2 separate regions of the Homo sapiens genome follow, and region 1 is linked to region 2. Evidence: fine-mapped expression QTL. A gene starts in region 2. The other region holds a variant in brackets. All regions are shown on one strand. Distances are from middle to middle. Region 1 has its middle 28 kb from the start of LINC02448. Region 2 holds the start of SLC16A7 (solute carrier family 16 member 7).

Evidence for each region. PIP is the estimated chance that this variant, and not a neighbour inherited with it, causes the effect.
Region 1: its variant is the best candidate, but not a certain one, in a credible set for the expression of SLC16A7 in whole blood (INTERVAL, PIP 0.66).

What each region holds. Positions count from the first base shown.
Region 1 is chr12:59,493,236-59,498,623 of GRCh38, reverse strand. No RefSeq gene overlaps it. Among named protein-coding and RNA genes, the nearest start is that of LINC02448, 28 kb to the left of the region's middle. The variant T/A (reference allele first, on the strand shown) is at 2,850.
Region 2 is chr12:59,593,653-59,599,040 of GRCh38, reverse strand. SLC16A7 (solute carrier family 16 member 7) reads right to left here and starts at 3,012. Exons shown (of 6, transcript NM_001270623.2): 1 at 2,805-3,012. RefSeq lists enhancers at 2,204-2,353, 2,404-2,543 and a silencer at 3,014-3,083.

The sequences.
Region 1 (5,388 bases), 100 kb after region 2:
AGAGAGAAGAATCAAATAGATGCAATAAAAAATGATAAAGGGGATATCACCACTGATCCCACAGAAATACCAACTACCATCAGAGAATACTATAAACACCTCTAGGCAAATAAACTAGAAAATCTAGAAGAAATGGATACATTCTTGGACACATACACCCTCCCAAGACTAAACCAGGAAGAAGTTGCATCCCTGAATAGACCAATAACAGGCTCTGAAATTGAGGCAATAATTAATAGCTTACCAACCGAAAAAAGTCCAGGACCAGACGGATTCACAGCTGAATTCTACCAGAGGTACAAGGAGGAGCTGGTACCATTCCTTCTGAAATTATTCCAGTCAATAGAAAAAGAGGGAATCCTCCCTAACTCATTTTATGAGGCCAGCATCATCCTGATACAACAGCCTGGCAGAGACACAAAAAAAGAGAATTTTAGACCAATATCCCTGATGAACATTGCATCACTGGCCATTAGAGAAATGCAAATCAAAACCACAATGAGATGCCATCTCACACCAGTTAGAATGGTGATCATTAAAAAGTCAGGAAACAACAGGTGCTGGAGAGGATGTGGAGAAATAGGAACACTTTTACACTGTTGGTGGTACTGTAAAGTAGTTCAACCTTTGTGGAAGACAGTGTGGCGATTCCTCAAGGATCTAGAACTAGAAATGCCATTTGACCCAGCCATCCCATTACTGGGTATATACCCAAAGGATTATAAATCATGCTGCTATAAAGACACATGCACCCGTATGTTTATTGCGGCATTATTCACAATAGCAAAGACTTGAAACGAACCCAAATGCCCATCAATGATAGACTGGATTAAGAAAATGTGGGCTGTAATCATTTAAACTGTAAACTAAATGCTTTCCAAAGTTAGCCTAAGCCCGAGAACGATTAAGGGAAGAGAAGATGCCAGGGGCGGGAGGGTTAGATTAGATGTCATTTACTGCCATAATTTTCTCACCGTTATAATTTTTGCAAAGGTGGTTTTAGTGTTATGGATGCCAAGAAAAGAGAAGGTTTCAAGAATGGGATGGTCGGCTGTCTTGACTGCTTCAGAAAGGGCTGTGAGTGTTCTCCACGTGGTCAAACCCAAGGAACAATTTTCAGGCCTTTTCTACTGTTCAAAATCTTGTCAGAAAAAGTTTGTTGAGAATGAGGGTAAAAATTGAAGACTTGGAATTGAGGGAAACTACTTTTTAGAGAAAGAATATAGAAGAGCCTGTTCATATAATAATGGGAAAGGTACGTGAAGTGGGGAAGGTTGATGATCTGGAAAAATAAATAAAGGAAGCATAAACTTTTGGAAAAGATGGGGACAGGTGGAGAATTTCTGACAAAAGATCACTTTTTCTGTTCTAATGGAAAAGAATAATAAATGATGATGATAACTTACACATTGTTTTTGTTATGTGCTGATCCCTTTTCTGTTATATGTTTTTGTGTATATTAATTTTATTTTAATAATATTTTAATGTAATTTATTAATCTTTCTAATAACTTTTAAGGCTGGTATTGTTATCAGCATTTTATAGAGGGACACAAAAATATAAGCAACTTGCACAGGTCCCATATCTAGTAAGTGATGAATTGGGATTTGACCAAGAGCCTCAGTACAGAGCAAGGGAAAGTGAGCCCCTTTCTGTCTGATTTCTTCTTTTGACAGGATGCATAAGGTAAGGCATCACCTGAAAGGTGCAGCGATGGTGGTGGGTAAGGAGATGAGAGGAGAGTTAAGAATAAGTAAAATAGTGGCCAGGGATAATGAGAGAGTAAAATACAGAAACACAGTGGAATTTTCACGTGGTGGTAAGTACTCATTTGACTTTTGCGAGACAATGTTTATAGTGATACTAGTTAACCTGGTTTTGTGATTGGATCCCTTTCATAATATTCCATATGAATCCAAAAGATAAAAAAAAGTAGATGGTTAGGTTCATTCAGGGCTAGAGTCTTTCTGGCATTATTTTGTTTTGGTAAGAAAGTGGAGGATATCTGCAAACAATAGCAAATCCAGGGTATAAATTTAAATGTATACATTTTATCTACCCCTGTAGCATTGTTCACTAGGAATTTCTGGATTACACGGGTAAGCAAAAAATTAATAGTTCATCAAATTGTGATTCTGTAAGATTAAAATTGGAAGAAAGAAAGTATTTAAAGGGAGGGAACTAAAAAATATGCATCATGGCTAATTACCTGTGCTATAATACTATGTCTTCATTGGAGACTTACTAGAGTTTCTTCTAATTTACAACCATTTGTTCTAAATGTGCTTACATTGGGAGAATCTGCTAGAGATTGCTAGTATTACTATGCCCCAGGCACATTGCTGAGATTTTCTGTATTTTTTCCAAAACATTTAACTTTGAAGCAAAGTGCATTTTTTATTATATCTTTCCTGCATTTTTCCCTAATCTTTGTTTTCTTAAAACTATTTCCCACATATAGTTGATTCTTGTTAATGGACACTAGCAAAGTTACAATTTCATGGAAATTAATGTTGATTAAAATAGATTTTCTATCATTTATATAGGAAAGACCTGATACATAACTGCTCATAAAATTTAAGTAGCAATGGTGTGTAAATTGATTCCTTTAAGAGAAATGTGCTGTTTTAAGGTCACTATTTTATACATGCATCATTCATTACCCATGGTGACACCATATTGCCTATTCAAAGTTATCTCAAAGCCAGAAACAAATAAAGAGCTAGGCCTAAGCTGGGAGAAATGTGGTTTATTAGCATTTTTACAGATTCTTGCAAGTAAAGTTTCACTAAATGGATACACATGGGAACGGACTTGAATAGATAATTTTCTCTACAAATCTTTCATTG[T/A]AGGATCACGGATTATGAATTTCACATCCATAGACAGTGTTAAATTTATTTTTATTTCAATCTCAGACACACATTTATTTCTGAGTTTTATGCAAAATCAGCTACCATATATTACATGCAAACATTAGTTTATGCCTATATTATAAAGTGAAATCAAATATCAATATGTAGAATTTGGAAAACAGCTTACCTAATAAATACTAGAATTTACTCACATATCAAAATTCATTGTGGTAAAACAGTATTTTTTCATTGAATTTTATATGTCTTATCAAAAGCAGTGGCCATAATTAATAAATCCCTAAAGTTTGTTGACAATAGAAGTGGTATAAAAAATTAAGATTTTTTTTGTCACTTGACTTTGACAAACATTATTACAATGAGGGCTGGAGCTCAGTCAGTGCTGGGGTGGGCAAACTCAAGGACTCTGCAGCTGAAACCCAGAACTGTATGATGGGATAAAACTTAAGAATGCCCCCTTCCAAGATGATTAGTGGAAGACCAGCAAGCAATGCAAAAAGCAAGATGCCAGGAAGTCAAAGTAGTATGTGATAGCTATGGTAGGGAGTAAAAATCAGTATTCAGTCATTCATTTGTTTAATAAATCTGTGGCACGTACCTACCATGTGCTAGGCACTCTTTTAGATGCTTGAGGTAAAACAATGACAGATCCACAGTCCGAAAGATCTTATATTCATGTGATAGGAAGAAACAGGAAGTAAAAAAAACGTAAAGAATAAGTAAGTGTGGGAAGGTGATCAGTGTTATGGGAAAAATAAAACAAAAAAATTGGGCAAAGCAAGAGGGATCAGAGTAACTGAGTGTGGAGCAAGTTATAATTTTAAGTAGGATGATCAGTAAAGGGCTAAAAGAGCAGTTGGTATGAGGATGATAGCACCTCCCTCAAGGCAAGAGATGAGAGAATTAGCTATGCAGATCATTTGGGGAAAGAGAAGGCTTTCAGTGCAAAGACTCTGCAGTGGAACCATGCTTGACTGGCTCACAAGTAAGGGTCAGTGTGTCTGGAGTAGAGTGAATCAAGGAGAAGATACCTGAATAAAAAGTCAAAGAGATACTGGGAGGGCTAACTTTCCATGGCATTCTTTTTTCCTACACTGTGTTCATGTCCTTTTCTGCATTGCTTTGTTTTCTTTTGTTCTAAAAGGAAAAAGCCAGGATGATAGACTACATTCTCCAAATACATCTAAAAATAGGGAAAAGTAGAAGTCTGATTCTATAGAATGGGTAGATAGCAGGAGGGTCTTGGGTGAAGATGTAGAAAATAAAAAAGGTCGTCAAGACTTGCTAAGTAAGTGGCCTCAGGTCCTCTATGGGGTGCAAAGAAAAAGTGTTGGAGAGATTTGGATTCAATCCTGTCTCTATCACTAGATGTTTGACCTCAGAAGTGGAACTTAACCTCTCTGAGGCCTGATGTTATCAATAATAAAGTGGGTACTATAACATCCTTTTCCTACAATTACCATAAAGATCAGATAATGTATATAAACTGGCACAAAGTAGGCATTTTTGACAAGTTGTCTTCTTCCATTTCTATTTTGCTACCTACCACTAATGTCCAGATTTCAGCTTTGAGGCTTTTATCTTCTCCTGGAAATAACTTTTACATTTGATCACTCATGCTTTGATTTCTGGCCACTTTTTGCACATAGCTATATCAGGGGTACTAACTGCAATGGAAAAGAAAGGCCTAGTAGCCTTTATCATTATTTTCCTGCCTATGGTGTATTTTGCCCCCATTTCGCCCCTCAAATTCCTCTGAGACACAGGAGAGGTGAGTGGCAGGTATATTCCTATTTGACCAAGATTGTTGTGAGCTGTTAGTGCTCTTAGTCTGGCAGAGGTTTAAAACGAACACCTTTTCTTGATTTTGGATTGGATTCGGGAGTTTTCTAGAGACTGTGGAATTCTGGAAATCTGTCTTTTGCAGATCTTGGAAATGCATCGCATTGTCTGTTCTCATTGGTCATGTATATATCTGCTCACCCCCGAGGCACCCAGCAGCTTGCTCCCCTCTGCCTTCTGCCAGGGTCTCCTCAGACCTCTCATGGACATGACCCAAGGTAGCCCGAGATTGCAGTGCTTGCTCAAGTGACCCACTTTTATTCTATGGGAGGTAGTCATGTATCCTTTACTCCAACAAACTCTGAAAATGCGGGCCATCACCAACATGTTGCTCAGTAGCTCGAACTTTCCATTTTTAGATTTCTTAGATTTGAGTCCAACACCAATGAATACATCACTCAATAGCCAGGAAATACTTGTTTTCTTGGGGCAAAGATAAAACAAAGATAGTTGAATGTTACTGGCATTGAAGACTGTATCTTACGGAATTCTCATCTTGGTTTTCAATTTGTCCACTGATTTTAAAAAGAAATACATAGTTCATGTAATCCTTTAGAACTCAAATGCTGTCTATTTCTATCCCTCACTCATAGCATTTGAAAGGCATATAATTAGTAAGTGAAACAGAAATAGACTGCAACCTTACTTCTTTTCTCAAATCTTAAATGTGTATGTT
Region 2 (5,388 bases):
CGGTGCTTGCCCCAGCTCAACCACTTACTAACTGTACCAGCTGAATAAGCTATGAAACTTTCTGGGCATAAATTCTTTTTTCTGTAAATATGGATATGGACAGATCCACCTCAAATGGTTGCTACATGCTATCAGACAGTAGTAGCACAGTGCCTGGAATATGGTGAGCATTACAGAGTTGTCATTATAGTTATTATATACTACAGTTACTTTATACTCTTAGGAGTGAGTGGATTGGTTTGCCCAAGGTGTAGTAGAAACTGCAACTCAAACTCTTCTCTCAAATAATGGAAATCAATTCATTGACAAAGATAATCTTCAGAGAAGGATCATCCTGCCCTCATAACATGAAGAAAAATCCTTCATTACCTGTTTTTATTCATTAAGGATCACTATTAATGGACAAAAAATGGGCTGAATACAGGTTCCTGAGAAAAGACATTCTTCTCAAATTTGCCTTTTAGCAGATCTTACCAACATTTCTTACAACTGTGGAGTTCCTTTCAAGTTACTTGGATATATGTTTCTTCCATCAAGAGGAGAAAAAAAATGGACTAAAAGGCAAATGGGATACAAGAAAGATTAACCTGAATGACTGACTATATGAGAACTTCTTGAAAGCAGAATTACAGCCTCATTCATCTTGGCAACCCTGGTAGGGTGTCTAGACTGATTATAGGGGCTCAAATATAGCCCGTCTGTATTCTAGGTACTTACCACACACTTCATTCTTCCCAATATCACTTCAGAGTGGGTACCACCAATCTCATTTTATAGACAAGAAAAAGGTAAAGCCCAGATTGTTAAACAATTACTCAACCTTACAAAAGTGCAGAACCAATCTGTTCTAAAGTTAATTCCCTTTTTCCATGTGAATGTCTCAAAAATGTTTGGTGGATGAATACAGAATTAAAAGCAAATTCTGGAGATGCCTTTTATTTCAGATCCGTGATCCAGGAATATGACTCCAGACAAGGGAGGTTTATTTAGGTAATGTTGCTCTCCTTCCCTTTAAAAGAGCTCAAAGCCAAAAATATAAGCCAGACATTATCAAAGAGCAAATGAATGTCTAGAAATAAACTGAGCATTTATAGAAGGATACACTAATTTGAACATCGGGAAACAGATGTTAAAATTTCAGATCACTTATTATTCAAACATGCCTTGGGGGGAAAAAAGTAATATGTAACTGCAAACTGTTGTTGTATTTGCAAAAAATAGTTTCTGAGTTTGTAAGTTGTTACACAATACACTGAGTTTCTTACGGTTGTAATCTTTCCTTTCCACTGAGATCATTCAGTCCCTCACTTGGATTGCTTTAAATGTAATCTGCTCAGTCAGAAGTAGAACCTGGAGTTAGGATTGCTTCACCAGAGCTAAATATTAGTCACTTTGCTCAACCCTCATTTGCCCTCTGCTGTCCCCACCCAACTCTCATTTTTCAGCCACACTCCACCAAATGCATACTTAGTGCTTGTGGTTCCAGTAACACAACACATTCAAGCTAACCTGTCTGTGGAAAGTTTGCAACCCTCTGAGTTCAGACTGGGGTTAGCCATGAAGCATGGGGTGACAGGAAATGGCATCCAGTAGTCACTCTTTCCTCTGGGTCCAGTCTTTTTCCCATCACTTTCATCATTGTCCGCTATTTTATTCCTCTGCCGCATCTCCTTTGGGACCCAAGAGGGAAGGAGGACACGAAATAATACAGGAAAGGAAATCAAAAAACAATTGTAGAGAAACCACTCCTCGTTTCCTCTTCTATGTCTCGTGTGTGTGTGTGTGTGTGTGTGTGTGTGTGTGTGTGTGTGTGTGTGTAAAATTTTAATTTCCCTGGAATTGGAACTACAGAAGTCCCTCCTCAGCCCTACCGGGAAAGTGGCACTGGGCACGACCGCCCTTTCCAAGGCAGTCTGCAATCCTTTTCGCGGAAGTAGAGGAGAAAAGGGGGTGGAGAAGGGCGCCGCGATGCAGCATCCGCTGAGAAAACAGGCAGTTCGCACGTGAGCGGGCTCGCAGCCTGTGGCGCCACCTGACCGGGCCTGGCGCCCCCAATGTGGTGCAGTGGCCCAGCAAGACCAGAAGGCTCAGGCCCTCCTGAACCCTTGCCAAGTCAGAGGTCCCTTTCTGCCTGGGCTCAGGCCTCGCCCGCATATAGTTTTCCATCTGCTTCCACCCCTGCCATCCTTCCTGGGGACCAAAAATGAAGAAAGACAACCCCCCCATCCCCCGGTATTTCGTCTTCCCCTCACAGCCTCTTCCTGTCCTGATCATCTGCTCAAAGAGAAGACGTTCTCTCCACACACTCCACCCCCGCCTCCACCTTCTGCGGCAATGAAGCCACGCCACCCTAGGGGGCTCGGGGGCCGGATGCTGGCGGGGCGCGCACTAGAGACACGCCGCACTGGAAGCAGCCCTCGGAGTCCCGTGAGCCAGGGAGACTGGGGTGCACCGCGCCACGCTGAGTCTCGGTGTAAAAGCCGAGAGCGTGAGCACCTCCTGGCCGAAAGCACGCGAGGCGCTCCTTGCCCAGGACCCCGCGCGCCCCCTCAGTTCCCGGGCAGCTGTCGGCGCGCACTGGCTGACGCGAGCTCTGCTCCCGCGGCCGCTTCGGGATTTTTTTGTCTATATAAGGGCTCGCTGGCCAACTCTGCGTTGGCACGTTTGTCACAGGCTGGCCATTATTTGCACACACGCGTGCGGCTCCGCGGGCAGCTCGGGTCGCAGACGCAGGCTCGCCCTCCTCTTAGCCGGCACCTCCTCCTCCTCCTCCTCCTCTCCCCTCCCTCCCCAGCTGTACTTACTTTATCTGGTCTCTGGCGCAGGGTGGGCGCTGCAGCCCTCCGTTCCCAGCAAACCGCAGCCGATTCGCCTCGCTGTCAACGGGTGAATGGAATTATTTATTTATTTATGGCCCCTGACGTGTCCTCGCCCGCCACAGCCAGCGGAGAAGGAGGCGGTGGCGGGAAGGGGAGGCGCGGCTGCTGAACGCCCTTGTGGGTGCGGAGGAGCGCGCGCCAGGGGTGGGGGCCGGACAGGCTGCGGTGGAGGCCGGCCCGGGGGGTGGTGGGGGGGAGCCGCCTCCCGGTGCCTGGAGACCGACTGAGCATGCTCCAAGCGGCTGTCAAAGCTATAGGCACTTTCTCTATCGCTCGGGGCACTCCACTTCGGATTTTAGTTTTGACCAAGGAAGAAAGCCAAAAGGCAGGTAGATCTGTCTTTCCAGATGGGTCGTAACTTGCTGTATCCGAAGTACTCTGTAGCCTGACCTAGAAGACAGATGTGCGGTAGCTCTGTGCAACCCAAGCATGGGAGAGGAAAGCATGCAAAAAAAGAAGAGTCTGGCCGAATGCAGGGAGAATAGGAGATCCTCATTGTGAGCTTGCAGGGAAAGTGTTGAGCCATTTTTCAACTGAGGCCTTTTTGGGAGAAAGAGGTAGGGCACTGTTGGAGATTAGACTCACCAACCAAATCACTTCACGGAAAAAAATATAATTGACACCATAGGAGGAAGGACATAGAAAACAGCACCAAAAAACATTAAAAATAAGAAGGATTTTTTTTCAAATCATTTATAATTCCTTTCATTTTTAATTTCTCAAATTACTTAGTTCTTCAAACCAGCATTTAGTTATTTGACAACGAATAGTGCTAGAGATAATGGTAATTCTGCTGTCATTGGTTTGGTCTCTTCCCCTGTCTAAAATGTGCTTCTTGGTAAAACTGGAAAGAGGAAGGGCTGGAAGAGAACATTTAAGTAACCCCATAGATTGGGTTTCTTTAATATCTTTAAGTTAAATTGCCACTTTAGAGAAAAAGAAACTATCCAAAAGAATAATTGTAGGTTTTGGCTTGACAAGTCCTATTGCAGTTTGTCTACCAGTTTAGCTAGCTTTCTCCTCCTTGATTTCACAATCATTTTAAGGTGTGTTCTATGATTCTTCACATTTTACGAATTTATAAAAAGAGTTAAGTCATTTGGGTAAATTCACATTGTCTTTGCCACAGCTAGTCTGTTGTAATGGACGAAATTTGAATTTCAATTTCTGTAGCTATGAAATAAAAGTAATATCAATCGTGTTGATTTCATAAGATTTAAGTGAAATAATATACATGAAGTGGCTGGTAGGCATAATACAAGATGAAAAAATAATCGTGATTAATAACATCAAAATTACTGGAAGATAATTTTATTGAAAGAATGATATTTGAAAATGAAAAAAAGGCAGAAAATTACAGAAAGGATTTTATATTTTTAAGCTAAAAATGCTTAAATAGACATTTGTATAAGACATAATAGGCCTTTGATAATGATGAAATGTCTAGCAGTGACTATAAACACTTCATTTAATTAAAAAAAGTTAAACATTTAAAAGAAACAACATAAAGGCACATTTCAAGGTCATAGTCTTGAGTGTTTGCTATTGATATTTTTCCTGCTCATTCATCACTTTTATTTCCTGTCAAAGAAGAGGAAGAAGAAAGACCATATGCTTTCTGAATTTTGATCCTATTCTCCCTTTTCCTTCTCTTTGATTTTTCTTTTTTGTTGTTTTTTTCTTATAGTCCCATGTTCTTGACCTGTTTAACCTATTGCTGAATGCCAAACATCACTACTTATAGCATGATATCGTAACCTTCTTTTTAAGTCTTGTTTTTTCAACAATTAAAACTCTGGATCTAATTTACCTACTGTCACAGAGTTAGTATTTGGGAACTCATTTCTAAATTGCTTTGTTGTGATAGCTAGGTATGTTATGTAAAATTTGATTGGACTAGAAAGGTATCTGAAAGGAGGGAGAATCAGCTAAGAATAAATTCAGCCAGTTTATCCTATGACTTACAGTTTAATATTGTTAAGAAATTGAGAAAAAAATACAATTTAGGGAAAAAATAAGCCATATGATTAGAACTTGGAATGCTCTGGTAAAATGTTTGCCTTGATTTATATTCATAAGCTGAAATAACAGTGGGAAAAACAAATAGCAATACACTTAGCATTCTAGCAACTCATATTCCACAGATGAGCAAACTGTGAATACGTACATCACATATATACTCATGAAGTCCACATGTCTTTTACTATATACCCACATCCTTGTGGTTTAGGTTCTTTCTCCCTTCTTCATTCCTCAGTCATACACAATCTTCTCACATTTTTCTGTCTTTTATCATTCACTGCCCTCTTTTCCATATCAAACTTGTCTAAACCTTTTTTCCTCCTTTAATGCCCAGCAAATATATCATCACTTCTATAGCATTTTAAGGATTCTTTGTTAACAAATAAGGGTTAAGTTCATCTTTCTCTGTGATCCTGCCCATAGAAAATGATTTAGGCCTCTATCTGGGGCATTTTGTTTCAGCTTCACATATGACTATATTATAATA